2 separate regions of the Homo sapiens genome follow, and region 2 is linked to region 1. Evidence: fine-mapped expression QTL. A gene starts in region 1. The other region holds a variant in brackets. All regions are shown on one strand. Distances are from middle to middle.

Region 1 (15,319 bases):
CCAGCACTTTGGGAGGCCGGGGTGAGTGGATCACCTGAGGTCAGGAGTTCAAGACCAGCCTGGCCAACACAGTGAAACCCCATCTCTACTAAAAGTACAAAAATCAACTGGGCATGGTGGCGGGGCACCTGTAATCCCAGCTACTCAGGAGGCTGAGGCAGGAGAATCGCTTGAATCTGGGAGGCGGAGGTTGCACTGAATTGAGATTGTGCCATTGCACTCCAGCCTGGGCAACAAGAGTGAAACTCCATCTGAAAAAAAAAAAAATCCAGAAGGCTGTGATTTAACAAATGTAACCTGACTCATTATTATGGGCTGTGGACAAAACAGGTGTCAAAATATCTCCAGGAAATATTAACTACATATACGGATACACTCCAAAGTTTAACCCCGTCTTCTGGCATTAGGATGGATGCCTTCTGCAAGGTTGTTGATCCTGGGAGGAGGAGGTGGGAGTAAATCAATGGAGAAGCAAGAAAAAGGAGGGCCAAATTGGAAGAGGAAATGTTTCCAGGAGGGATTTGGCAGGCGGAAACCCCAGAGCTGGAATTTTTGTGCCCAGTGGAGACCTCTGATGACCAGTGTGGTTCTCCCTGGATTTGCCTCCATGTCTGTTCCTGGGCCCCACCCCCTGTCCTAATAAGAGGGTCCCTGATGTTTTTGCCTCCAAACTTTTTATTTAGAAATAATTTCAAATGTACAGAAAAGTTGCCAGAACAGTACAAAACACTCATATACTCTTTACCCAGATTCACCTGTGATTAACATTTTGCCCCATTTGCTTTATTTAATTTTAAATTTTTATGTAGAGACAAAGTCTCACTATGTTGCCCAGACTGGTCTCAAACTCCTAACTTCAAGCAATCTTCCCACCTCAGCCTCTCAAAGCGCTGGGATTACAGGCCTGAATCACTGCATCTGGCCACTTCTGTTTTTAAAATTTGGTGCTTCTTCTGTAGCCTTGGTTCTTGTCAAATGTTGGGCGAGCCTTCGTTCTGTGTTCCTCTGTTGGATCTTGGGGTCTTCAGGTCACCTCTCTGTGAATGCTGATTCTGTGCACCACAGCCAGCCATCACCGGCTGTGGACAGGAGGGTGGGATGTACCTGCTGAGCACTGACAAGAGCTGGTCTAGGCATCCCCTACCTCTCAACCCGTGTCCAGAGTATAAGCATGGTGTGTGGGGGCGGGGCCGATTGGCCTGGCTGCTCCAGATTCAATAACCACCAATTCAGGGCCCTTCCTGTGCCTGGATTTGCTGGCTGAAACCTTGTAGCCCCCACAGCTGCTTCTCTGATAGAGCACAGAACCCACAGGCACACTGCCTGGCTTCAAATCCTAGCCCTGCCCTTACTAGCACTGTGACCTTGAGAAAGCTGCATAACCTCTTTGGGTCTCATTTCTAAATTCTCTTCTCGGCCTTTCTCAGGCTGGTTTGAGGCTGTCCTAATGAATGTAATGGGTCCTCTTATCCTTTGTCAAAAGGAATGTTAATTATTTTCAGCAGTCTAATTACATGGTTAATGAGAGACTGACTGAGATAACATTCCCTTTAATTACTCTTGCCTAAGTGCTGTTTGGCGCCATATTTTAAGCATTAGCAAGACTGGGTGCTTTCTCAGTAGATGGAGCTGTCCAGTAAGGGGCTGAGTGAAGGGCAGGGGTTGTTGGGCTTAAGGCTTATGGTGGAGGTGCCTGGTGTGGCTGGGGTCAGTGTCCAGCTGAGTGCATGGTGGTCTTTCCTGTGGACTGTTACTTAAGGAAAGGAACAGTACCGATTGGTTCAGATGGAGAGCAGACAGCAACTGTCACAGATTCCCCAGAACAACTCTCATCCTTCAATTAAAAAAAAATTATTTTTAAATAAATAAATAAGTTTATTACATGTGTGAGCCACTGCCCCTGGCCTTACCCTGTCAATTTCAGACTGACATCCTTATAGCTCCAAGTCCAAAACAAAAAAGAAAAGGATGCCTCTTTTGTGGTCTCTGTGGCCATTCCAACAAGAATCTCAGGATTGGCTCTGATTGGAGCATGTATCCATCCCTGAACCAATCACAGAACCAGGGGAATGTGGTGCTGTGATTGGCCAGGCTGGGGCCTGATGCTCACCCCAACAGGCAGGGTATTGACAGCATCCAAAGCACACTGACCCTCAGTGTTGGAAATAAAGCTTGGTGTCGCAAAGTGAAACCAGCACTCAGGCAGAAAAAGTTTTCTCAGCAAGGCAATTTACTCCTGCAGAAGGGTGCGGCCTGTGTCAGTTACGATCACGAGAGCACACTGAACAAAGGAGAGCAGGGGTTTTTATCCCTAACACAGACCCTGTTCCTGTGTCCTCCCTGTGTTGGCTGGGGTTGGACCGCACAATCTAAACTAATTCCGATTGGCTACTGTTGACATCATCAAAGGAGGCAAGGGTGGGCACTTGGCGGGAAAGACAAGTACACAGGTGATGGCATATGCTTGGGCGTGTTTGGGTGCAACAGAGATAGGGAGGGCTGATAGATGGATGGGTAAGATTACTTTCAGAATAGAACAAAGAACAAGGAACTGAAACCTTTGAAGATAAACTGTGCCTAACACCAGCTACTCTGGCCTTGCTGTTTCTCAAACTTGTCTAACTTTCTCCTACTTCAGGGTCTCTTCACTAACTGTCCTCTCTGCCTGGAATGCTTTTCCCAAAGTTCTTTGCACGGCTTCTTCTCATCTTTCTAACCTATGCCCAAATGCTACCTCCTTAACATTTAAGACTCACCTTCCAGCATCGGGTTTCTTTATTTCCCCCACCTGGCCTTCCCCATCTTCATGGCATAATATTAAAACTTATAGTATGTTTAGAGCTGCTTAGTTATTGCTGATCTCCCACCTGCCTGTGAGCTCCAAGGGGGCAGGAACATTGTCTTGTTCACACATGGTACAGTACCTGGCCTTCACTGGGTCTCAGTAAATATTTGTTGACTGCTGGAATATAACACCTTGAATAAATAAACCAGCTACCACAGGACTTCTTGGACTAAGTTCCCTTGTTGTTTAGAAATCTCTAGGTGGCTTGGCTGTACAGGCTGTGAAAAGCGGAGTCCTGTTGTCACACCATAAGAGCGGTCCAGGCTTGTCTTCTGAAAGCCCTGCTGGGCTTCTTTCTGCCTCCCTGGTGAGGCAACAAAGGGGCAGGGTCCCCATCACTTCTGAAGGTGCAGCGTGGCAGGGTAACCTCCAGGACACCCTAAGGACATGGGCAGTAGTGGGAAGAACCCAGATAAAATCCTGGTCACTTTGCCAGTGAGGCTGTGAGGCCACTGCCTCTTTTTTCTGACTGACAGGAGAAGGCTTGCTGGTCTCATGTGCAGAGTATTCTAGGGCCTCTCAGCCGCTGCCTGATGGGATCTGCATAGGGGATTATTGATGAAGGCAAGGTGAGGCAGCTCTTTACAGTAACACATGCCTCACTCTGGGACGGCGGCCAGGCAGCTAATTAGAGAGCCCAGCAGCTGTCCAGCCTTTCAGGCAGCAAGCAGCAGCTACTGATTGCCGGGGGTGGGAATGGGAGGAAATAGACGTGGGACCAGAGACCACCCTCCAAGGCGATGGAGTTGGGTGGTCAGGGTTTGCTCAGTGGGGGACTTTGAGAGGGGCATGTGAGATAGAGTGGGCTAGATGGGGAGGAGGAAGGGGGAGAGGAGAGGGAAAGGACAGGTGGCCTCCAAGTGAGACAGAAGACAGTGGGGTGAGATGTCAGGCAGGTGGGGCAATGCAGCTTCCAAGCTCAGAGCAAGGGGCACAGAGGGGAAGGACAGGGCCCCGTGGGGTTGGGGCCTGGCTCCCATCTCCATGCACCTTCCCCATGCCAGGCAGGCCCCCGCGGCCTGGGCCTCTCCTTGCTTCCTGGGGGAGCTGGACAGACACAGGCTTTCCCCTCAGGGAATCTGGAATACTGATTGCTTTTGTAGTTGAGCTTGGCCCCTCCTTGGTGTAGGAAGTTACCAGATCCATTTGTGCTCAGGGCTTTTCTTACTCTAGGATAAGTAAAAGTGGTTGTTCTGAGTCACGTGAGAAGAACTGGGGGCTTTGAGTAACCAGAGGGCTCCCCAGTGGGCCTTTAGGCATCTTCTCTACTTTGTGGGCACCTGGGTCAGGGTGCGGTGTAATAAGAAATGTATTCGGTCTTTGTCCCGGGTCCCTGTCATAGAGCTCCTAAAACCCTTGAAATTTCCTGAGTGAAAGGAATGTCTTTTGTTATTCATAATAAGCACCTTTGATAACACCTGAGTTTATGCTAATGAAGTTACTGGGGAAGTGGTGGGGTGGTGGAGGGGCTAGACAGCCTCAGGATGGAGCCAGTCTCCAGAAAGACCAAATGCTTAGAGGATTAGAACATTTGGCCTCACCCTCCAACCTCCAAGAAAGGTGTGGGAGGGTGGAGATCAAGCTACATAAAAACTCTTGAATAAGATTTGATAGGTTTCTGGGTGGCTGAACATGTGGCGGTGCTGGTGGGTGACCCCCCAATACGTCACCCTATCCATCTCTGCATCTGGTTGCTCATCTGCACCCTTTGTGATAAATCAGTAAAGGTAAGTGTTTCCCCGGGTTCTGTGAGCCATCCTAGCAAATTAATAGAACCCAAGGAGGCGGTCATGGGAACCCTGGTTTGTAACCAATTGTTCAGAAGTATAGGTGACGATCTACTTGTGACTGGCATCTGAAGTGGGGGCAGTCTTGTGGGACTGAGCCCTCAGAATGTGGGATCTGCTGCTATCTCAGGATAGATAGCATCAGAGTTTAAATGAACTGTAGGAGACCCAGTTGGTGTCTGCTGGAGAAATGTGACCAGATATGGGGGGCATATCTGCCCCCCTCCACGCCCACCCCATATCTGGTCACAGAAGTGTTCTGCTTTGAGTGTGAGAGCAGAAGGAAAAAACTTTTTTTCCTTTACAGGGAGATTTGGGGAGTGTTAAGGAAAAGGAGAGTGGGGGTAAAAAAACAGAGGTAGTATTTGCCTGCATGCTTTCTGGCTCCAGTGTTAGGTTCCAGGCCAAGGAGATGATGAGGGGCCGGGGAGAGAGATCTGATTTTTAGGTTCTGGTCAGAGAAGCAGAGACTCAATCCTGCAAGCCCAGCTTACCTTAAATAGTTATAGGAAAGGAGAGAAAATGGTGCGAAGGGAATTTCCTGCCAGTAGCCTCTTTGGGAAGTGAATCCTATGTGCATGAAAACTGATGTGGCTTTTGAGAGTGCCAGCACATTGTAGAAATAACAGAACAGGAGTTGTTATTCTCTGACCTGAACCTGCGCTTGGCCCCTTGCCCACATAGGAGGCTGCAGTATCTCCCCTGATGCCTGGAACAGTCTGTTCCTGCCCCAGTCTTCCTTGCGTGATGTTGGACATGCCTTCTGTATTGTGCAAACCCAGGCCGCCCACTCTGCCTCTCTTCATTCTCTGGTGGTGCAATGGCTCCTGGAGATGGGAGAAAGGAGAGTGAGCACACTCCTTGCTTCCTTCACCTGCAGAGACAGCCTTGCCTTTAGTAAACCAACATGTATGGCTCATCTGTGATGGTGGCCTATAAATTAGAGAAAAACACAAGACATTGCTATGTTTGATTAGTAACATTGGATGTTTCAGTCGCCCAAGAATTTAAATGCAGCTGGGCCCTTCTCCACCTTGCCTGTCCATCCATCCAGCAGAAATTTTATGATCTCAAGAAATTCATAGCGTGGTGGGGGAAACAGACACATAGACAGAATTTTTTTTTTTTTTTTGAGACGGAGTCTCGCTCTGTCGCCCAGGCTGGAGTGCAGTGGCGTGGTCTCAGATCACTGCAAGCTCTGCCTCCCAGGTTCACGCCATTCTCCTGCCTCAGCCTCCCAAGTAGCTGGGACTACAGGTGCCCACCATCACACCTGGCTAATTTTTTGTGCTTTTAGTAGAGATGGGGTTTCACCATGTTAGCCAGGATGGTCTCGATCTCCTGACCTCGTGATCCGCCCGCCTCGGCCTCCCAATGTGCTGGGATTACAGGCGTGAGCCACCGCGCCCGGCTACATAGAAAGAATTTTAAGATGGGATGACATGTTTCAGTTGAAGGATGGTCAGATCCCCCTGGGAACATCAGTGATGGAATGACCTGGAGGTTGTGGGACGGCATCGCAAAGGAGTGAGGAGGGAGCAGGGTCTGGAAGAAGGAGTCAGAATGGTGGCTGCAGAGGAGGGCAGGAGAGATGACAGTGCTTGAAACAGGCCGGTGGTCTCTGCTTCTTCACGCTCCCAGCAGCGTCTCAGGCATATTGACCAGAAGCTGCATGGACAAACTCAGCTATAAGTTTGCAAAATAAGCAGCTTACTTGGAATGGACTAAGTAGTTTACACTGACTTGAAGACCCTTGCATGCAGACATGTGCCTTAAGGATGAGATTTGGGTGGGAAGCAGTTCGAAGGCACATTGTATGGGGACAGGGTGATTCTGGAGGCTGAGGACTGGGATTTGAATCAAATGTTTGGATTTGGCCAAATCTCTTAATGTCCTGAACCCTCTGTGTTTTCATTTCTAAAATAGAGGTGACCATTTCTGCCCTTCCTGCCCCTCAGGAGCCTGAGAAAATCATGAGAGATGATCTAAGTTCCATCCATATGTTAGTTGCTATAAGGGCTCATCATTCATTCATATGTTCCAAGAAACTCTGGTTCAGGTCCTGCAGTCCTCAAAGGAGCCTCATGTCCCCTGTCCCCTGGGATCTACTCTTGGGGGATAGGGAGTGTCAGTGAGGCCTAGGGACAGCTTATGCACTTGGAGGGAGAGGTGCACCATCATCTCATCCTCCCTGCAACTAAGTTTTTCCTGGGGAAAAAGCCTGCAGACCAGGAAGTGGGAGGTGTCTGGTGGGACACTGCCCTCAAAAGGAGCCTTTCTGAGTGCTGGGGCTTCATCTGCCAGGGCTGCACCTCAGCAGGCAGTGGGCTCCCAGAGCTGGCTGCAGTAACCCGCAGGCTGTGCCGGCAGGATGTGGTCTTTGGTTTCTGTTTCTGTTTTAGTTCTGACTTGTGCCGTGGATGTGGCTGAGGGCCTAGGGTGGGGAGAAGTCTCCACAGGTGGGATTGAACTCCCCAGGCACATGGTCCTTGTGGTGCTGGTGGAGAGAGAGTCCCAGAGGGTTCGGACATGCTCCGTTAAAACCTTTTCCTCAAGGTGATAGGTACGTGTCAAGGTGACCCCTGTCCGCCATCCGGCAGGCTGGAAGAAGCCGGTAAGATGGACAGATCAGGGAGGGTTGGAGGGTCCCGTTTGTGAAGGAGCTGGGGAGGGGGAGGCAAGGCTGAGCACAGCAGCCCACTGTGATGCTCTCAGTGCAGAGGCCCCGGGGGGAGACCCAGGGGGGCACCCCCCAAAACCACACCATACAGTGAGTTTCAGTTCCCCCACTCCTGCCCTTTCACTTCTCCTCGGCTGCCTGGCTGCCTCACAGGTTGTCAGCTTGAGCAAGGGCCCAAGCGGCCTCTACTCAGAGACCCTGGTGGTCAGAGGGGAGTGGGGAAGGTGGACATGGGCATCAGCACAGACCAGCACCTCTGGTCCATCCTGCCTGGTCATCCACAGGGGAGTGCCAGCTCCCACCCCCAGCCACATACTGTTCTCAGCTTCTGAGTGGCTGGGCTGTCCCAGAGGGCCATGCTGGGCCTGAGTGCTGTCCTTGGGCATATGCAGATGGTGTTGTATCCAGGGGGTTTTCAGGGAAGCTTTAGCACTTTCATATTAAAACAAAAAATGTTGGAATCTCCATTAAATAGTCAAGTCTTAGGGATAGTAGTAAAAACATGGCTGTACATGGCTGGCCAGGCACAGTGGCTCACGCCTATAATCCTAGCACTTTGGGAGGCTGAGGTGGGAGGGTTGGCCAAGAGCTTGAGACCAGCCTGGTCAACATAGCAAGACCCGTCTCTACTTGATTTTTTTTTTTAAAGTACATGGCAAAGGGCATTATAAAGTAAGATTTGTATTAGCTTGTAGCTGGTTACTGATGTTCATAGGAAGGGCCTCAACCATAATAATGGTGAAATAATAAAATGAGATGAATAAATATTAGAGAGGTAGAATAGTACGTAGAAAGGTTTAGCACACATTTTGTTTTTCTGCACGAGTGGTTGTTCTCTGCTTTCAAAGTGCTGAAACGAATGTCCTACATTGTCTGCCTTCCATGAGGTTCTGACCGCCCTTGAGAACAGATGTACCCACTACAGGGTGAAGGTGAGAATGTAATTTGAAGCTGAATGAGAATGGAGCTGGATTCTAAAATTATATCCCCTCTCAGATTCACAAGTGTTCACACATTTAGGCAAGAAGCCCTAAGTCCTAACCCTGGACATGTGGATTGTCCAGGACCATCCCAGACTTTTGTGGCTGGATTAATCAGACCTGAGCAAACTGGATGCAAAGAGGAGGGGGTAGGTTCCGGGAAGGGGCCCTGGTGGCCAGGGTGGGATGAGTGTCTGGTGCTGAGCCCAGAGCCCAGGCCCTTGCAATGTTTTTCTTGGATCTGCTGGGGGCAGTTTAAGCTAATAAAAGCCTCCTCTTTTATTCCCAGGGACACATGGAAGCTGCCAGCCCCCCAGCCAAGGATCAGCTGAGCCCTAGGGCTGATGCTTGCCTACGTTGCTGAGAATGGCACTGAGGCCCAGCCAACAAAGGTTAACCCAGGACACTCCTGGACAGTGATCCTGATGTCTGTTGTGAGCTGCACACTCAAGGGTGTGATAAGTGAGTATGTTACAAGCACCCAGGGGATCACCAGCCCAGCGATCCTGCCTGCTCGGCACCTCATCAGCATGGGCACGAGTCTGGAGGTTCTAGTTCTGAGTCTGTTCCCCATCCAAGGTCCTGTCACAGGGCAATGGGAGGGGAATGTCAAGCAATATTGGGCCATCACATGCGGGAGCCGTCTTATGGCCACATGGCCTCTAAAATCCAGGCCAGACCCAGTGTATTAGTTTGTTTTCGTGCTGCTGATAAAGACATACGTAAGAGTGGAAAATGTATACAGAAAAAGAGGGTTAATTCCACGTGTCTGGGGAAGCCTCACAATCATGGTGGAAGGCAAGGGGAAGCAAGTCACATATTACAAGGTTGGTAGCAAGCAGAAAGAGAGCTTGTGCAGGGAAACTCTCCCTTATAAAACCATCAGATCAGCCGGGCACTGTGGCTCACGCCTGTAATCCCAGCACTTTGGGAGGCCGAGGTGGGTGGATCGCAAGGTCAACAGATTGAGACCATCCTGGCCAACATGGTGAAACCCCATCTGTACTAAAAATACAAAAATTAGCTGGGCATTGTGGCATGCACCTGTGGTCCCAGCTATTCAGGAGGCTGAGGCAGGAGAATCGCTTGAACCTGGGAGGCAGAGGTTGCAGTGAGCCAAGATCGTGCCATTGCACCCCAGCCTGGCAACAGAGCAAGACTCTGTCTCAAAACAAAACAAAACAAAAACCCATCAGATCTCATGAGATTTATTCACTATCACAAGAACAGCATGAGAAAGACCTGGCCCCATGATTCAATTACCTCCCACCCAGTTCCTCCCACAACATGGTGGAAATTCAAGATGAGATTTGGGTGAGGACACAGCCAAACCATATCATTCAGATTGTCTGGCGTGAGTGAAGCGAGCACTCACACCTGGGAAACAGCATCTACTTTGGCCGTCAGGCTTCAGATCTGTGCAGTGAGGACCATGCATCACCTGGGACTGGACTCTGCCCAGAAGCCATGAGCAATGCATGTGCTGCTGGTCTAGGAGGCCTGGAGTAGGGCATCCAGGGCCCTGGGAGGTGGGGGGATTTGTGAGCCTTAGCTGCCATAAGAGTGACCACCAGGGGATCTGGAGGAGCATGTCCTCTTGCTTTTGTCACATATCAGCAGCAGCATCTCCTCCTCAGCGAGACAAGCTCGAGGTAGGGTGAGAGGCTCCTAACTGCACAGCCCTGCCTGTCCTCACAGGCCTTTCTTTCCAGCCTCAGCCCCTGGCTTTTCCTTGATGATGCCTTAAAAAATGACAATTGGCTGCTTTCCCAACCCCCAGAGGCCTGTCTGGCCTGAAGGCTGTTATGTCTGTGCAGGGCCCGTAGCCTGGTGGGATCAGAGGCCTGCAGGAAGGAAGCTCCCCAGAAGGCATGGCAGGCAGAGCTGGGCTTTTGCAATCTTGAACAGACAAGCTTTTTTTGGAGTTCCTAGGCTGGTCCATGGGAACCCAGAGCTTCAGATTCCATGCAGGAATTTGCAGGGAGTAGAAAAGGGGTAATCAGGTCTTTTTCCACTTTAGGTAGATCTTGACTCTCCTAGTTGACAGTTTATAATTCAGGGCCAGAATCTGTTTTCCACTCAGCCTGGGCTTACAAAGTCAGTTTGACTGGAGAGTTTCTCAGGAAGTGTGTTCTTGAGTTGATTTGTAGCCAGGGTGGTGTGAGCAAGCCTAGACTGTAGGAGGGGAGTTGGGGGTAAAGAGATGGCCATGGGTGCCTCTGTGGGAACGTCGTTCCTCAGATGGGAGGCACATCTCCCCAGAGCAATTTATGCCATCAGCCTTAAGGCTGTTGTACCGTTTGGTTCAGTGATTCTCCTTCTGGAATTATCCATTAAGATATATTATTAGGAAATAGTACCAGAGAAGAAAAGGGCTGAATTCTTCCATTACAGGCATTAAAGGTAATTCTCGTTATATCATCTGTAGTAGTAGAAATGGGAAACAACTGTTCCCTTTGGACATCTAGGTTAAGTAAATTACAGTTTTCCGCTTGCTGGAATATTACACAGCCATTATAATAATGAGCACAGAGGCTATATAACAACTTGGAAAAACAGTTATGACAAGTAAAAATGGCAGGTTGCAGAATAAGTATATTATGGTGACTTGTAAAATACACACATAGGAAAATATTGCAAAGGAGAAATGGTAATCGCTGTTAGTTCAGAATTATGAGTGCTTTTTCTTTTTTTTTCTTTATTAGAAATGAGGTCTCACTATGTTGCCCAGGCTGGTCTCAAACTCCTGGGCTCAAGCAGTCCTCCCGCCTCAGCCTCCCAAAATGCTGGGATTACAGGTGTGAGCCCCCATGCCCGGCCTATGAATGCTTCTTCTATGATGCATGGATTGGCTTTTTAAAAAATAAAATTGAATCCGGATGACTACACAACATACCATTAATAGTGACTTTCTCTAAGATGTGTGATTACAGGGAACTTTTGCTTTCTATGTCATTCTGTAATGTTTAAATTTCAGCTGTGAGCACATGTTGCTTTTATAATTAGAAAAAAAATTAAATGCTAGAATTAAATGTTTTAGAAGGCTATATTTCTCAAGAAAGGAGGGAAGAGAGACCGAGGCAGCTAGCTGTTTATACCTGCCCTCATCAGTGTTTAAGGGCCTGGGCCTGTTTGGGCCCACTCATCCATCCATTCATTCCACAAGTATTACTAGGTATTATTGCCAGGCACCACTCTAGGCACTGACTAAACAGCAGTGAACAAGACAGTGCCCCTGCTCTCATGAAGTTTTCATTCTAGTTGAGGAGAGACAGACCATAAATAAGTAGCAACATATCAGAAAGTGAAAGTGCTATGTAGAAAATAAAATGGAATGATGTGAGTGACAGAGAGGCTATTTTGGACTGGGGATCAAAAGTCCCTGAGATATGACAGCTCAGCTGAGATCTGAATGGTAACAGCAAGGCAGCCACATACAGGTCTGGGATGCCAGCCTGCCAGTCCCCCGTGCAGGGCATCCTTCGCTTTCTGAGCCCCAGGGACCTCTGTGCCAGAACTGACTCCATCCCCCAAGCCCACTCACCCTGCCCTGCCTCCTGCTGCGGTTTGCTTGGGATCTGAGGCCCCCTGAAATCCTCTGTGTTCGGACCGCTCCTCCTGACATGCTGGCTGTTGCTCCTCTGGGCAGCTGGCCCCTGCTCTTGGCTGGTGTCTCCATGGCAGGGCTGGGCCGGGCCATCTGAGACTCCCAGGAGCACTGGTGTGGGCTGGCAGTCAGGGGGCCTCTGGGTTGTGTGTGTCCTGGTGAGGGGCCTTTGAATGGCGCATGCCTTGGGGCCTGAGGGTTGGTTGCTGTCATGGTCCTGTGACTGTCAGCTTTGACCCTGGAGGGCCTCTGTGTGGATCCCGAGGAACAGGCTGGGAGCCTTTAGGAACTCTGACACCCAGTTGGGAAGTTTGTTAATGAACCACCTAGAAGTTCACAACCTTCTCCTTGCTTCCTGTTGTCTCTCCACATACCATCCCAGCCTTCCAGAAGCAGGAACTCAGAAAATGGTAGTGCCCTCAGAGGAGCCTGCAGTCAGCCTCGGGGGCAGTGCAGTGTGCTGATTAGGAGCAAAGACTCTGGAACCAGATTTGTGGGGTTTGAATCCCAGCCTTGCCTTTTATAGTTATTAGAATGTAGGCTCGGCCAGGTGTGGTGACTCGTGCCTATAATCCCAGCACTTTGGGAGGCCGAGGCAGGCAGATCACTTGAGGTCAGGAGTTCAAGACCAGCCTGGCCAACATGGTGAAACCTCGTCTTTACTAAAAATACAAAAATTAGCTGGGTGTGGTGGCAGGAACCTATAATCCCAGCCTCTTGGGAGGCTGAGGCATGAGAATTGCTTGAACCCGGGCGACAGAGGTTGCAGTGAGCCAAGTTCACACCACTGCACTACAGCCTGGGTGACAAAGTGAGACTCCATCTAAAAAAACAAAAAACAAACAAAAAAAGAACGTAGCCTCTTTCTGCCTCACTTTCCCCATCTGTAAAATGGGCTTGAGAATTTTTTGAGTTAATACATGGAAATACTGAGAAGAGCACCTGGTTATTATTATTACTGTGACTTGGGAGGTGGAGGGAGGACTTCATCAAGGCCTGCAGTATCACTAATCCCAGGGGCTTTCCTTGGGGGGCACCCACAGCAAGAGGGTGGAAGTCTGCAGCATGTGCACCAGCCAGTGGCTACAGGAGTTTCCCTCCACTTGCTTCCCTTCTGGCCCTGGGCAAGCCCTATTTTCCTCCCTGCTAACTTGATGACAACAGGGGAAGTTCAGGGAGGTTTCTGCCCTTTCCTCATTGAAGCCACTTATCTTCAGCACAGAGCCGCCCAAGGGCTCCTGAAGCTGTCCCCCGCTGCGTTGCCTCAGGGGTCTCCTAGAAGGGCTGTGGGTCTCCCCAGAACATGGAACTGTAGTGATGGGGGTGGCTGGGGATGGGGAGTGAAGCTTGGGAAGTGAGTGGAGTGAAAGCGGAAGGCCTTCCCAGCCCGGTTGCATGGGAGGGGAATCCCAATTTTCTGGCCAGATGCTTCTCTGGACAAAAATTCCCAGAGTCACTGTGTTGTGGCACCTTAGCCCCCTGAAACAAGATGGGAGTTTTTGACAAAACCAAGGGCAGTTATTCCATCTGGTTTTGCCTTCAGCCTGTCTTAGACTTTTATGGCAGCCTCTTTACCCCTCTCAACTGCTGGCCATGTCCCCTGCCACCCTGTGGAACAGCAGGCTCGGAGAGCAGCCGGTGAGATGCTCTTAGTGAACAGGGCTCTGAAAGCCAGATCCCCTTCCCCTTCCCCATCACCTGTTCCCTTGAAGGGGTAGTTCCTAGACCTCACAAGTCACCTTGAGTCCTGGCCCTTCGATGGGACTCTGTTTGCCCAGGCCCTTTCATCAGGTATGAGGACTCTCGGATTTGAATGTTGTTCAATGAAACCCTGCTTGTGAAGCTATCCTTTGCTCTCCAAACTCTGTCCTCCTGCATTCAACCTTGCTCACACTCTCCTCCTCTTCAATCCACCCTGAATTTCTGTTCCTGGGCTGTCCTATCTTCATGTCACAGGTCTCAGGACAGTTTTGTTTGTCACCAGGAGAAAGAAGCCAAGGTCCCCTGAGCTGCCGGTTCTCCCTGCAGCAGGCTTTCCCAGGGCTCTGATCCCAGGGCTGAGCAAGGAGCTAGTGGAAGGAGCCTAAGGATATAGGGAGTCGGGTGGGTGGAGGCCGGGGCAGGGAATAGAGGCCTGTCAGGCCCTGTATGGGGTGGGCGAGCCTGTCCTAGCTCAAAGTTAAGCACAGCTCCTGTGCTGATTAGAAATGGGTTTGGAGAGTGGGGTTCTGAAAACGCATCCAAGTCAATGCCCAGCCTCTAATATTATCATCTTCCCCACCACACTGGGAGCTGCCACCTCAGCCAATGACACTGTCTCCTATTCCTTTCTCTTCAACCCCATCTTCTGCCCTGACTCAGGTCTTTCATTTCCCCTGTTGGTCTTGCATGGACCAGCTATGTTCTCCTAGTTCTGCCCTCGGACACTGTCTGACATTGCCGTGGTGTGCTTCCCCTCCATCTACTACCCATGGCTTCCTGCTGCCCAGAAACAGAATCTGGGCTTGGGGCACACCATATTTCTCTCTCCCCCATCTCGCTTTTTTGTTTTTCTTTCTTTCTTTCTTTTTTAAGAGACAGGGTCTTGCTCATTGTCCATGCTGGAGTGCAGTGGCACAATCATAGCTCACTGTAGCCTCAAACTCTTGAACTCAAGGGATCCTCCTGCCTTAGCGTCTGGGACTACAGGCACACCACATCAAACCAGCCTACTTTTTTTTCTTTTTGTAGAGATGGTGGTCTCGCTATGTTGCCCAGGCTGGTCTCGAACTCCTGGCCTCAAGCTATTCTCCCACCTCAGCCTCCAAAAGTGCTGGGACTGCAGGCATGAACTCCATCCTCTCTTCTGTTCAGCAACTTCCTGTCTCTCACCCTAGGTTTCTCTCTCCCTTTGACAGCTACCCCTTTCTTCTTGCTTCTGCTCCAAGGGTTTTGGGATCTGACTCTCCCAAGTTACTTGCTGGGGTTGGGGAAGAGACTGGACCCTCCCGTCTGTTACCAGCTGGGAAACCGGTCTGGGCCATCCCAGAGAGATCAGAGGCAAGAAGAGCAGGGTTTAAAGTCAGCTTCAAGGCTGGGGTCTGGCCTGAGTAATGAGATCCACACAGTCATGTCAGGCTGCTGCAGGAGAGCCCCTGTGAGGTTCCTGTTCCCTCAGCCCGGGCCCTGGGGGTTGGAAGAGCCAGGGGGATACGTGCAGGTCATGGGGCCTGAGTTGGGGTAGGAGGTCCAGAGGTCTCCACATCCCTGTGCTGTGCCATCTGTCTCAGGCCCTCAGACCGCCTCAGTGTGTTCCCCTGGAGCCTGGATCTGTTCTCTCCTGCCCGGGGGTAGGAGGTTAAATGAGGGGGTGAGAGGCTGTGCCCCTTTCATTCCACCATCTTTTCAAGTCTGCCCCTCGGGCTGGCTCTGACACCCTTC
Region 2 (14,604 bases), 18 kb before region 1:
GCCTGTCAGGACACTTTGCTCTAGAGACACTTTGCTCAGGGGTGTGCTGAGATGACACTTAGCCCCCATCAGGGGCTTTGTGTTTGGAGACAGATACAGGCAACTGGGGACACAGCATGGCAGGCGTTGGGTGGGGACAACAGGCTTTTTTAGTGTTGATTTTGGCCACTTATAGGTACAGGAGCAACGGAGGTTCCAGGACCAATAAGGAGTAGCAGGAGAAAACTGAGTCCCCTGAGCTATAGATTTGTGGCCCTGCAATTTGTGGCTAAAGTCAGATGCAGGTACTGCACCAGAGAAGCACAGCTAGGCCCACTTCTATGGACCTTCCCATTCTAACAGGCAGGCAGGATTGATTTCACTCAATTCCCCACTGGAGCGGCTTTATTGGTTTGTCCCAAGCTATTTATTCGGAGCTGAGGATAATGATATGGAGGCCTGACCTCCGAGCCTCCAGTGGTTAGAGGATGGGCTTTTCCGTGGCATGTTCCTCAAATGTACTGACCTTAAGATGGGAAATTGATACTCTCCTAACTTCCTGTTTTGAAGTGATGAGGCATGAATTTTTACATTTATAAAGTGATTTAAGACCCTCAAGTCCTTGAATGAAAGATATTAAATGAGTTAGTGAGCCTTATACTGTGTTTATTTCGGTTGTATCAGATTTACATATTGTTTCTAAAGGGAAAGGTGTCATTTTACAGGAAGGGACCAAATTACAGCTTTTGTGATAGGCAAAGCTCAGTGTTGGTTTTAAAAGTGTAGTTTTTATCAGAAAAGCTCTCGCTGCAGCACTTAGGCAGCAAGCTTTTTTTTCTGCTTACCTCCCAGGATGGCTTGGAGCTCCTTCCTGGTGGGCTTTTTCCTGGTGTACAGTTTCCAGCTAGAATGTTAGTGACTGTCACCTTCCAGTTTCTGAGGAGGGTCTCCGATGATGTTGGGGACTCTGATGTCATAAGGAAAGACCTGGGTAAGGGCAGTAGAGTGAGGCAGCTTGGTCTTATCGGCAACTGTATCAGATCTGGCTGTCCTTGAGGGGAGGGAAGGGATAGCTAACCCTCCCAGAGCCTGGCTGTTTTCAAGTTTGTATGCTTTTACTTTTCTCCTCCCCCATCTCCCTACCTCCCATATACAGACAAGGTGGTCTGGGTGTATTTTTGAATTGCAGGAACATTCCTTTTAAGGCAAGGATAATTTCTGACCTGGCAAAGCCTTAGCTCCCTTTGTGGCAACACCTGGCTAAGGAGGGAATATCAGACAGGATTCTCATGTTCTGAGCTGAGGAATTTCAGCCTCTATTGGCCAGATCTTCTTCTTACTCTACATCACTTCTCAGAAATCAGGCTTTGTATTTGAAAAGTAAAGTGTAAGCTGATTTCTAGGGAAGGGGTAGGAGGGGGGCACTTTTGGTTTGGTTCCCCTTAGGGAAACTGAGTCCCACTGAGAGTTGTCACACTGGCTGTGGTGTGTGAGAATGCATGTGTTGGGGAAATTTTCCTTTCCTGGGATTTAAGAGCATTTAAAATCAAGTACCCGAGTAGATCCATAGGTTATACTTTTCTGCTATAAGATAAAGATGCACTCAGAATTTACGTACCAGAATTTACATCAGTACCAGGGTGTTTGGTTCAAGACGTATATTTGCCTCAGACTTTGAGCTGTGGGATGCCCCATGCTGCTGTGATTCAAGGAAAAGGCAGTGGTTTTCACCCCGACACACACATCCACAGATAGAACTGAGGCTAAGTCAACCATCACATTTCCAAGATGGAAAAGAGGGTTTGCTCCTTTCCCTGTTTTCCCATTCATCAGGCTGCATTTATACCCAGTGTGGCCTTCGGCTCTCCTCCCCTGTGAGGCTATACTTCATGCTCATTTTAACATCAGTTCCCCTATGTATAAATGTAGTGGAGCGGAGGTCACAGAGTGATGCTGGCCCCCTGCTCCTTCAAAGGATGGTTCTGAAAGGCGACTTTCCACCCTCCTCTGATTTTGGTGCTTCCACTTACCTTTGGATCACAATCCAGTCTGGCAATTTGAGGAACAACCAAAGTCATTGACAATTCATGTTTTTGAACATCCAGCTTTTCACCATCCTTTACTCTGCTGGCTTCCCAGTAGGGAGTTTAATATTTTTTTCGGGATTCTCGGCTCCCAGTGTGGCTGGTATTATAGAAGAGACAGCATCTTTGAAATGAGGGCAAACCATCTACACGGACAGGTCTCGGGTCCTCAGATTGCTCCTTCCGGCTGCTCCATCTTCTAGAAGCATGACAGTTTTTTTTGTTTTTTTGTTTTTTTAAATAAGACTTCAGCTGTCAATTAATGTAGGGAGAGCTAATAAATATGAAAAGATGAGGGGAGAGATCACTTTCTGCCATTCCTTTGCTTTCCAAAAGCCCCTCATTCAGAACATACTGGATTATCCACTTCTGACTGCTTTTGCAGTTAGACTTGAATGACGAATGCCATCTAGCTGGCCCATTCATTCATTGTTTCCTTTCAGTTATTAAGAGGCACCCCTGTCACATGAGCTTCTGGAATGATCCGTTTCCATTGGAAAGGTCACTCACCCTGAGTTTTAGTAAGGCCTTGACATCAGCCCTGAGGAGCTAGGGATGCCAGCCAAGGAGATTGAAGGGCCACAAAGAGAGGATTCTTTTCTAGACTTCTGAGGGGTGATTCATGCTTCAAGATAAAATGTGCTTCCTGGGGCTCCATGGTTTCATTGCTTGCACAGTCAGTGGAGGGACAGGCCCTGGTGCAGCGAGAAGCCCACCTTGCTGACAATAACTGCCATTCTTCAGAGCACCGACAGGGACTTGTTTTTAGCCCACTGACAACCCCCATCTCCTTTTTCATTGCTGTCCTTGGCCAAACCCCATTTTAGTCCCTAAGTCCTTAGTATCTCTCTTCCCCTTGTTCCCAATCAAAAAGGCCTGTTCAAAGCCAGGAATAAGGCAGCCAGAGCATTGGTCTTACTTTCATCTACTTTCTTAAAACACACATGGACAAGAAATATCATTACCACTGGGCAACACAAGCAGCGGTTCCAGATTTTTGTCTTGTTTTCTTTTTCTTTTTCTTTTAGTTTGGCATAAGCAATGAGATGACCTTCTTATACTGACCTATAGATGCTATAAAGCTTTCATATAGCCTGCACAGTTTCTAACACATGGTGAGTGCTTATTAAATCACCAGCTGTGGTACTTGGATGTGATCAGATACCCCGATTTCTAGGTCATTGGGCAATGATTCGTCTGTGTGTGAGCTGATGGTTGGCAAAGGCTTCAGGAATCAGGAAATCTGGGATCCCTCCCTGACTCACTCACTTGTGTGACCTTGGACAGCCCATTTCAGCCCTCTGAGACTTAATTCCACAAATAGAGCTTCAGCTGGCTTCAGTGATCATGGCAATAATAATGACAATCACCATTTATTAGGCTAAGCATTTACATATGTTCTTTTCTCATATCAATGAGATAGCTACTATTAATTATCCCCATCTCACAGCTGGAAACACTGAGGCTCTGCAAGATAAAGTGATCACCCATATCATACAGCTAGTAAGTGTCTAAACTGGGATTTGAATTGAGATCTATCTGATTCTTTTTTTTTTTAATAAAAAAATTTTTTTAGAGACGGGTTCTCTCTCTGTTGCTCAGGCTTTAGTGCAGTGGCACAATCATAGCTCACTGCAGCCTTGAACTCCTGGGTTCAAGTGATCCTCCTGCCTCAGCCTCCCTAGGACTACAGGCATGTGCCACCATACCTAGCTACTTTTAAAATTGTTTATATGGAGACAGAGTCTTTATAACTCGCTATGTTGCACAGGCTGGTCTCAAACTCCTGGCCTCAAGCAATCCTCCTGCCTCAGCCTCCCAAAGTGCTGGGATTACAGGGATAAGCCACATCTCCCAGCCAGTCTGAATCTATTGTGTTTTATAAGCTTGGATCAGATAATAGACCAAATGTTGGGGAGAGGGTAAAAGTGGAGGCAGTATAGGTTAACACATAAAAAGGAGAATTGACCAGGTGCGGTGGCTCATGCCTGTAATCCCAGCACTTTAGGAGGCCGAGGTGGGTGGATCACCTGAGGTCAGGAGTTCAAGACCAGCCTGAGCAACATGGTGAAACCCCATCTCTACTAAAAACACAAAAATTAGCTGTGCATGGCGGCTCGTGCCTGTAGTCCCAGCTACTTGGGAGGCTGAGGCAGGAGAATCGCTTGAACCTGGGAGGTGGAGGTTGCAGTGAGCAGAGATCATGCCATTGCACTCCAGCTTGGACAACAAGAGTGAAACTCCGTCTCAAAAAAAAAAAGAGAGAGTTGATGTGGATTAAACACAACTAGTTAAAAGGAGACAGAAGTACAGATTCTTGTTTGAAAAACATCATCTCAATGAATGTTCAGTAAGGAGAGGTCTGTACCCTGCAGTAGGGAAGTAGACCAGATGGCCTGGGAGTTACTGTAAAGGGAACACGCTTTCTGCTTGGCATAGGAATACATCTCATAAACCCCATTTCATTTTGAAACCAAAATTTTCCTCTTGCTTAACGGTCTGTTTGGGCAACATTTTTATTTCTGTTGTCCTACTGCCACTAGTCATAGAAGCTTATCTTTGCAGATTCTTGACCCCAATCCTCATCCTCCAACCTAGTTTCTGGGCCTTTCCCTGCCCATCATTATAATTCA[G/A]CTGTGGAGACCTGATTATGACTCTGGGGTCCCAGCTACACTGAGCAAAGTACAGCAAACATGAGATTATTCTGTTCTTCTGAGAAAATATTTATAGCCACTGATTTCTCCATTCAAAGGTGACCAGCTAGTAGATTGGGATCCATTCTTGTTTGTTCCAAGCAAGTTAATTGTCTTCTGTTTTTTTTTTTTTTTTTTGAGACAAGGTTTTGCTCTGTCACCCAGGCTGGAGTGCAGTGGCACAATCCCAGCTCAATGAAGCCTCTATCCCTCTATCTCCTGGGCTCAAGGGATCCTCTAGCCTCAGCCTTCCAAGTAGCTGGGACTACAGGTGCAGAACTACACCTGGCCTCTTCCACCATTTTGAAGTATTCATGGAAGAGGAATGAGGGTTAAGGTGGTGGTCCAAGGAAGGTGAGCTGACCCCTCTTGGAGAGCTAGCGTGAGGCTGTATGATGGAACAGTGTGCAAGGGGTCAGGAGACTTGGGTTCTCCTCACAGCTCAGTGACTCTGGGCGTGTGATGCAAGTTTTTTGGCTTTTAGTTTTCTTATCATTTGGACAAGATATTCTCTAACCTCTCTTCAGGTAATAATGCTAGATGATCCAGCCTTTCCTGAGAAAGGCTGAGGTTCCAGCCTTTTTCAGGAAATAACTCAGCTGGTCTGGAACTGTCAGAAGTCAGAGTTGGGAGGGAAGAGATGGTGTTGAAGGAGAAAGAAGTCAAACTGGAAGCTAAGGAACAAAGTCAGAGCTGGAGGAAGTCCCTTCTCAAGAAGGGGGACTAGGACCAGTCATTGCTCTTTTTTTTTTTTTTGAGATGGAGTTTAGCTCTTGCTGCCCAGGCTGGAGTGCAATGTGACTTCGGCTCACAGCAAACTCCACCTCCCGGGTTCAAGCAATTCTCCTGCCTCAGCCTCCCGAGTAGCTGGGATTAGAGGCATGCGCCCCCACGTCCGGCTAATTTTGTATTTTTAGTAGAGACAGGGTTTCTCCATGTTGGTCAGGCTGGTCTGGAACTCCCAACCTCAGGTGAACTGCCGGCCTCAGCCTCCCAAAGTGCTGGGACTACAGGCGTGAGCCAACATGCCCAGCCCAGTCATTGCTCTTTTAACCGCTTCAGTGGGGCAGCTGAGAGGTGGTGTCTGTACACCCTTATACTCACCATTCCTATGTCATGGGGAGCAACCTTTATGTCTTGTCTTAAAACTTAAACTGAGCCAGGCAGGGTGGCTCACACCTGTAATCCTAGCACTTTGGGAGATGGAAACAGGAGAATCACTTGCCAGTTCAAGACTAGCCTAGGCAACACAGTGAGACCTTGTCTTTACACAAAATTAGTTGGACATGGTGGCGCATGTCTGTACTCCCAGTTCCTTGGGAGGCTGAGGTGGGAGGATCACTTAAGCCTGGGAGGTCGAGGCTGCAATGAGCTGTGACCACACCACTGCACTCCAGCTTGGACAAAAGACCGAGACCCTGGGGACTCCAGGGTCTGCTTCAGTCCAGGATTCTTCCCCCTATCCCTGCTCCTCTGCCACTTGGGTCTCCAGAACTTGAGGTCTCTGGTTGATGTTTTTTTGTTTTTGTTTTTGTTTATTTTAGAGACAGGATGTTGTTCTGTCACCCAGGCTGGAGTGCAGTGGCATAATCATAGCTCACTGTAGCCTTGAACTCCTGGGTTCAAGCAATCCTCCCACTTCAGCCTCCCAAGTAGCTAGGACTGTAGTTGCACCACCTATATTAGCACCTGGCTAATTTAGCTGGTGCTTTCTGGGCAACTCAGTGTTAGCGAGAGTATAACCCCCTCTGTTGCCCTAACTACCTGAAAGGGCAAGGCTAAACCATATACTCAGCCCAGGAACTCAGGGACCACGTCTTCTTTGTTCATGGAATTGGGCTATGGCTAGGCTATCTTCAGTTCCCTTTGAACAAGGCTTTTTCTTTTTCTTTCTTTCCTTTTTTGTTTTTAGATGGAATCTGGCCCTGTCGCCAGGCTGGAATGCAGTGGCACGATCTCAGCTCACTGCAACCTTTGCCTCCTGTGTTCAAGCCATTCTCCTGCCTCAGCCTCCTGAGTAGCTGGGACTACAGGTGCATGCCACCACCCCCAGCTAAGTTTTGTATTTTTAGTAGAGATGGAGTTTCACCACGTTGGCCAGGATGGTCTCGATCTCTTTACTTCATGATCTGCCTGCCTTGGCCTCCCAAAGTGTTGGGATTACAGGCATGAGCCACCACTCCTGGCCCAAACAAAGCCATTTTCTAAGGACCCTTGGATTCTTTCATTCCTTCTATTTTCATTTCATCATATTCAAGGTTGAGGAGCAAATGAGTTCCCACTGAACCCACCAAACCAATATTTTCCATCCCTACCTGTCTTACATTTTCCTCACCTCTTATTCCCCTATCCCCATTATTTTTATGGGGGGTACCATGCTACTGGGGGGATGAGAGATGATTTCATTTGGTACAAGGACAAACATTTCATTTTAATAGCTATGTTTCTAATGAGTGTAAAGAAACATGACTCATTGGAATGTACTCATCAAGCAACTTAATTTTGCCTCCCACTGTCTCTTTATGTTTATCCAGTGGGATTAGTTCTTTCCCTGGTCTAGGGTGAAAACTTAGGCCCTGTAACTTTTCTGGTTATTCATAGGAGACGGTTCTGTGATCACTTTAAGTCTTACAAGCATAGTCTCAACTAGGTACAAAATACACCCGCTTTATGAAGCAGAGTCCCATGGAAAAAACTAAAAAATAAAATAAAATAAAAATACATCCACTCCTTTGTCACTGGACTGGGAGGGGCAGGAAAGTGCTCACTGGGTACACTCTGCTGGCTTCCAGCTTCCTGGTCCATATTTTTATCGGATTCTCAGAGAACTCTCCTTACCCTCCCAATTGCTGGGATGTCTCACTTCTATTGTCTTGAAAAGAACAAATTATCAGCCAGGTGAGGTGGCTCACACCTGTAATCCCAACACTTTGGGAGGCTGAGATGGACGGATACCCAAGGTCAGGAGTTCGAGACCAGCCTGGCCAACATGGTGGAAACCCTGTCGCTACTAAAAATACAAAAATTAGATAGGCATGGTGGCGGGCGCCTGTAATCCCAGGGAGGCTGATGCAGGAGAATTGCTTGAACCCTGGAGGCAGAGGTTGCAGTGAGCTGAGATCGCACCACTGCATACCAGCCTGGGCAACAGAGCAAGAATCTGTTTAAAAAAAAAAAAAAAGAGCAAATTATCCTCTATTCTAGATCATTGCTCCTTCCTCAGCCCCTGAAATCCAGTGGTTCACCTCTAGCCTCTTTCAGCTAAGGTCCTTCAGTCTGCCCAAGAGACCATCTCAGAGAAGACCTGCTCTGACCTCATGCCAGCCCACATTAGTGCATGTGGCCCACATTAGTTCAAGGAAACAATCACACATCCCTGGGCACAGTGAACCTGGGAAGGCAGGCTGACCCCAGCTCAGCAGTCTCCCTTGGCTCCTCCAACAGCAGATGGCCAACGTGTGTCCCACCCTTTGGATGTCTCAAGAGGTGATCAGATGCCAGTCCACCATGTCCTCCCAGTTGCAGGGGACAGACATCAAGTTTCCTGAGTGGTCCTGGTGAATTCCCCTCTCACCAGCTTGACAGGAGGGCCAGTTTTCTATGGGGACAGGGTGAGATATCACAGCACACTAACAGCAACCCCAAAATTCCTCCACAAAGATTTTTCCCCAGTCTCTGCCCATTCTGACCCTCTATACCCTCAGCTTGAGAGAGGGGCCCTTGCGCACCTCTTTTGAAAATGCGCATCCTTCTTTGGTGTCACACTTACGAGCATTATACCTGTTGCATCTTGGTGCACCTTGGTGTTCATCTGGAAAGTGATGCAGCTACTCATTTGAGTCAATTTGCTGATTAATTCCTATAGCTGCTTTGACTGGATGTTTTAAAACTTTAAAAAATATCCAAACGCACTTGGGAAATCATAAAAGCAACACAGCAATGCACAATAAAGGAATCTAAAGTGTTCTATTGTGTTTTTGTTTTTGTTTTTGTTTTGTTTTGTTTGAGACGGAGTGTCGCTCTTGTTGCCCTGATTGGAGTGCAATGGTGAGATCTCAGCTCACCTGCAACCTCTGCCTCTCAAGTTCAAGAGATTCTCCTGCCTCAGACTCCCGAGTAGCTGGGATTATGGGCACCCGCCACCACGCCCAGATAATTTTTGTATTTTTAGTAGAGACAGGGTTTCACCAAGTTGGCCAGGCTGGTCTTGAACTCCTGACCTCGTGATCCACCCACCTCGGCCTCCCAAAGTGCTGGGATTACAGGTGTGAGCCACCGCACATGGCCTATTGTTTTTTATTTATTTTTTTGATTTAACATCTTGTTATATGTGTATCATCAAAACCATCATTGTCACAATAAGCCCATGATTTTGTGGATATTATTGCTTAGAACAAGGCTACAGTACATATATAACTGAAAAAAAAACTGACTTAAATGAAAAGGTTAGTGACAACAACTGACATTTATTGGTAGCTTATAATGCCAGGTTGCTGTTTGTAGTACAGTAAACATGCTTTCTCACTTAATCCTCATGAGGAACGTACTTATATTTTCTCTATTTTACAAACAAACTGAGCCTGGGCACGGTGGCTCACGCCTGCAACCCCAGCACTTTGGGAGGCTGAGGTAAGCGCATCACTTGAGGTCAGAAGTCCGAGACCAACCTGGCCAACACAGTGAAACCTCATCTCTACTAAAAATACAAAAATTATCTGGGCATGGTGGTGGGCGCCTGTAATCCCAGCTACTCAGGAGGTTGAGGCAGGAGAATCGCTTGAACCCAGGAGGCAGAGGCTGCAGTGAGCCGAGATCGCACGACTGCACTCCAGCCTGGGTGACAGAGCGAGATCCTGTCTCAAAAATAATAAAAATAAAAATTAAAAAATAGGCTGGGCACAGTGGCTCACGCCTGTAATCCCAGCACTTTGGGAAGCTGAGGCAGGCAGATCACGAGGTCAGGAGTTCAAGACCAGCCTGGCCAACATGGTGAAACCCTGTCTCTACTAAAAATACAAAAATTAACCAGGCATGGTGGTGAGCACCTGTAATCCCAGCTACTCGGGAGGCTGAGGCAGGAGAATTGCTTGAACCCAGGAGGTGGAGGTTGCAGTGAGCTGAGATCGCACGACTGTACTCCAGCCTGGGTGACAGAGCTAGACTCTGTCTCAAAAATAAATAAATAAAAAATAAAAATAATTTAAAAAAAGTAAGCTGAGGCAGAGAGGTGAAGCAGCATGTCCAAGTCACATAATTGGTGTCAAAGCTGGGATTTGAATGGAAAGAATCTGACTCCAGAGTGTGGACTTTTAAACTGCTACCCTCTGTCATTTCCCGCAGGGCAGTGGGCAGCCATGCCGAGTCATGAAGGTGGCATGCAGGGATGGGAAATGCTGCCTTAGGAGGTAATTGACGTCCTTTGCCCTGTCATTCAAGCTCTCCATAGCCTTTACACGCTTTTCCAAACGTATCTCCCCAGCGCCCCCAGGAAATCCTTCTATGCCCTTTCCTAGAGCCTAATCCACTTGCACAACTAATCTGGCATACACACGCCCACCCCTGCTTCAGTTGTTCCACTGCCTGAAGGGCACTCACCTGCCTTGCTGCCTACCCAAACTGTAGTCCTTTTAGAAGCCAGAGACCATCTCTGCTGCAAGTTTGTTTAACCAAAACCACTTCTGTTAGGATCTTTTAACTCCTCTTGTCATTTTGTCACCAGGTCACAATTATTATGTGCTTTTATGCAAAGGACAGTGAACAACAGTTGGCAAACACAGATCCTGATCTCTCCGTGCAGCGCCACTATCTGCTTGTTAGCGTGCGGTTATCTGCTTGTCTGCTAACTTACGCAAGGCTCTCAACTTCCCTGAACATTGGTTTCATCTTTAAAGTGTGTGTCCGGATGATATCCCTTCAGTTTTTAATATTCCATGGTTGTTTTGCTTACCATATTGTCTCCACTAATTTTTAAGCTCCCAAAGGCTGGAACTTTGTTTTGTAAATCTTAATACATTTCAGGACCCTGTACAAGGTTTTACACACAGAAAGTATTTAATAAAGTTGGTTGGTTGGCTGCTGGGAAATAAGCCCTGTGGTCACTCTGCTTTGGCCTTGACTGACCTTTAGAAATCACCTTCTGGGGCCCGGCGCGGTGGCTCACGCCTATAATCCCAGCACTTTGGGAGGCCATGGTGGGTGGATCACCTGAGGTCGGGAGTTTGAGACCAGCCTGACCAACATGGAGGAATGCCGTCTCTACTAAAAGTACAAAATTAGCCAGGCGTGGTGGCACATGGCTGTAATCCCAGCTACTCAGGAGGCTAAGGCAGGAGAATTGCTTGAATCTCGGAGGCGGAGGTTGCAGTGAGCTGAGATCATGCCATTGCACTCTAGCCTGGACAACAAAGCAAAACTCAGTCTCAAAAAAAAAAAAAAGAAATCACCTTCTGGGTGATCACCAGCAAGGACTTTGCAGTTCTTTTTTCAGCACAAGTTTATAACAAAAGTTTGGGTCCTATCTGTTGCATTTTTTTCTTTTTTTTTCTTTCTTTTCTTTTTTTTGAGATGGAGTCTCACTCTGTTGCCCAGGCTGGAGTACAATGGCACGATCTCGGCTCACTGCAACCTCCACCTCCCAGGTTCAAGTGATTCTCCTGCCTCAGCCTCCCGAGTAGCTGGGACTACAGGCGCATGCCACCATACCCAGCTAATTTTTGTATTTTTAGTAGACAGGGTTTCTCCATGTTGGTCAGGTTGGTCTCAAACTCCCGACCTCAGGTGATCCACCCACCTTGGCCTCCCAAAGTGTTGGTATTACAAGTGTGAGCCACAGTGCCCAGTCTGTTGCCTTTTTTCTTTAGGAGACCTAACGTCATGCTATTAAGGCCCACAGTCCTTTATCTGCAATTTTGAAATCTGAAGCACTATAAAACCAAAAGATTTTCTTTCACTCAAGTGACAGAAGAATCTGACTTGGTCTAACAGAGGCTCACATTGCACAGTATGAATATTCGTAGATGTCACCATAGAAACGTGAATGTGCTTGATTAGTGGGTGCTGCCCCAGACCCTGCTGTGAGGATTATGTAATTTATGATATGTGCTCTACATTACCTTTTAAAAAATCTTTAGAATTCTGAATTCCAAGGCTCTTAGATAGGGGACTTTGGTGCTATACGACCTTCCTCAACAGAGATGCCTTTGGCACTGGAGCAGGACAGGTCTTTGGGCTCTTCAAACATAACAGAACCTCACCTGGGACCCTGCCTCATTGGCCTGTCCCTAATCTCAGCCCTGGCTCCAATATAACTATAGCCTGTGGCCATGGCTTACCAACTTGATTTTTTAAAATATCATTTATCTTGGCTGGGTGCAGCAGTTCATGCCTGTAATCCCAGCACTTTGGGAGGCTGATGTGGGAGGATCACTTGAGCCCAGGAGGTCGAGGCTGCAGTGACCTATGATCATGCCACTGCACTCCAGCCTGGCCAACAGAGCAAGATCCTGTCTCAAAAATAAATAAATAAAAATAATAAGGTATCGTTTATCTTGATTACTAAATATTTTGGCACTCCCTTAAATTTTGTGTCTGAGCTGAGTGCATGTCTTGTCTCACCCTAGTTCTAGCCTGTGAGACAATCCCTCCGTTTCTCCTAACTCCACTGCCATGACTCTGGGATGAACTGATGTGTCCTCAGGGCAGGGAGTACCTGCTGGAGGTTTGCATTTCGTTCAAGCTAGTTGGGACCTGTTGCCCCTAGGCCAAGTTAGCTCATGCAGAGCAGCTGGCTCCTAGAGGCATTTTCTTTATTATTATTATTATTATTATTATTATTATTATTATTATTAACCCCCAAGTATACCTGGAGGCATTTTCTATACCTGGATGTTTCTTTGGATCCCAAATGAACCTTGTTCTTCTACTTTCATCTGGAAGATGATGCAGCTACTCATTTGAGTCAATTTGCGATTAATTCTTATAGCTGCTTTGACTGGATGTTTTAAAACTTTAAAAAATATCCAGGCCAGGCGCGGTGGCTCATGCCTGTAATCCTAGCACTTTGGAAGGCCGAGGCGGGCGGATCACAAGTTCAGGAGATCGAGACCATCCTGGCTAACACGGTGAAACCCCGTCTCTAGTAAAAATACAAAAAATTAGCCGGGCGTGGTGGCGGGCGCCTGTAGTCTCAGCTACTCGGGAAGCTGAGACAGGAGAATGGCATGAACCTGGGAGGTGGAGGTTGCAGTGAGCCGAGATCGCGCCACTGCACTCCAGCCTGGGGGACAGAGCGAGACTCCATCTCAAAAAAAAAAAAAAAATCCAAATGCACATGGAAAATCATAAAAGCAACACAGAAACGCACAATAAAGGAATCTAAAGTGTTCTATTGTGTTTTTGTTTTTGTTTTGTTTTGTTTGAGATGGAGTGTCACTCTTGTTGCCCTGATTGGAGTGCAATGGTGAGAGCTCAGCTCACCTGCAACCTCTGCCTCTCGGGTTCAAGAGATTCTCCTGTCTCAGCCTCCCGAGTAGCTGGGATTACAGGCGCCCGCCACCATGCCCAGCTAATTTTTGTATTTTTAGTAGAGACAAGGTTTCACCATGTTGGCCAGGCTGGTCTTGAACTCCTGATCTCGTGATCCACCCACCTCGGCCTCCCAAAGTGCTGGGATTACAGGTATAAGCCACCGCATATGGCCTATTGTTTTCTATTTATTTATTTATTTTAAGAGACAGGGTCTCACTCTGTTGCCCAGGCTGGAGTGCAGTGGTGTGATCATAGCTCAAGGTATCCTCCCACGTGAGTAGCTGGGACTACGGGCAGAGACTCTGTACCCTTATTCACTTTTTTGATGCAAAAACTGTAGAGGAGCTATGACTGGGAGTTACAAGTATCAATGGTAGAGCCAGGCCTAAAAAGTCCTGTTTCTGGACCTTCCACTGGCCAGGAGACCACTCCCCTCCTTAATCCGCAGCCCCCAGGTGTCTTCAGATGGTGGAGGATGAATAAGCTATCCCGTCAATTGAAGGGCATAACTTTTTTTTTTTAACCCTTTGTCCCTGTTTAGCAGTGATGGTCATGCCTGTGGGAATTGAGGCTGCCTTTCCCCCACCATTAAATAACCAGCCCTTCTCAGAGTCTGAGCCATAAGTATTTCTGGCACTGCCTTTTTAACCTATTGGAGGTCTTCTGGGATCATCACTTCTCTGCCCCTATTCCTGTCCATGCTTCCTCACGATATAGCATTTTCCATAAATATACTAAAGCATCCTCTTACATACTGTTTACTCATCTTCTTGTCCATTAAGGAAGATATTCCACAGACCAAGCCTGGCACCTATTTATTTGACTTCATCTAAACACATCTTTGCCTCCAGACATTGAAACATTTATCATTTCCCTGGCCTGTAGAGATAACCTGTGGTCTTCTACCTATTGTCACTATGCTGGAAAATGCTGAGATATAGTGTAATTTGAATTAATCAGGGAAATGAAATTTCCCAAAGGTGCCAAACTGAATAGTTTTCTTAAGCTCCAGAGGTTGACTACATTGTCTGTGTACCCAGTTGATATCAATAAAAGACCATTAGTGGGGCACAGTGGCCCATACTTATAATCCCAGTGCCTTGGGAGGTCGAGGCAGGAGGATCACTTGAGGCCAGGAGTTTGAGACCAGCCTGAGCAACATAGCAGGACCCCATATCTACAAAAAAATTAAGAAATTACCTGGGTGTTGTGCCATGTGCCTGTAGTCCTAGCTACTTAGGAGGCTAAGGCAGGAAGATTGCTTGAACCCAGGAGTTTGAGTTTATGGTGACCTATGATCACACCACTGAACTCCAGCCTGG

Evidence for each region.
Region 2: its variant is fine-mapped to the expression of TMEM229B in whole blood (TOPMed, PIP 0.97).

Annotation. Positions count from the first base shown.
Region 1 is chr14:67,480,435-67,495,753 of GRCh38, reverse strand. TMEM229B (transmembrane protein 229B) reads left to right here and starts at 7,033. Exons shown (of 3, transcript NM_001348543.2): 1 at 7,033-7,246; 2 at 8,582-8,754. It also overlaps a transcript of GPHN not described here. RefSeq lists enhancers at 3,272-3,811, 3,812-4,352, 6,902-7,321, 6,959-7,458, 7,622-7,691.
Region 2 is chr14:67,499,044-67,513,647 of GRCh38, reverse strand. It overlaps a transcript of GPHN not described here and a transcript of TMEM229B not described here. Among named protein-coding and RNA genes, the nearest start is that of TMEM229B, 18 kb to the right of the region's middle. The variant G/A (reference allele first, on the strand shown) is at 4,697.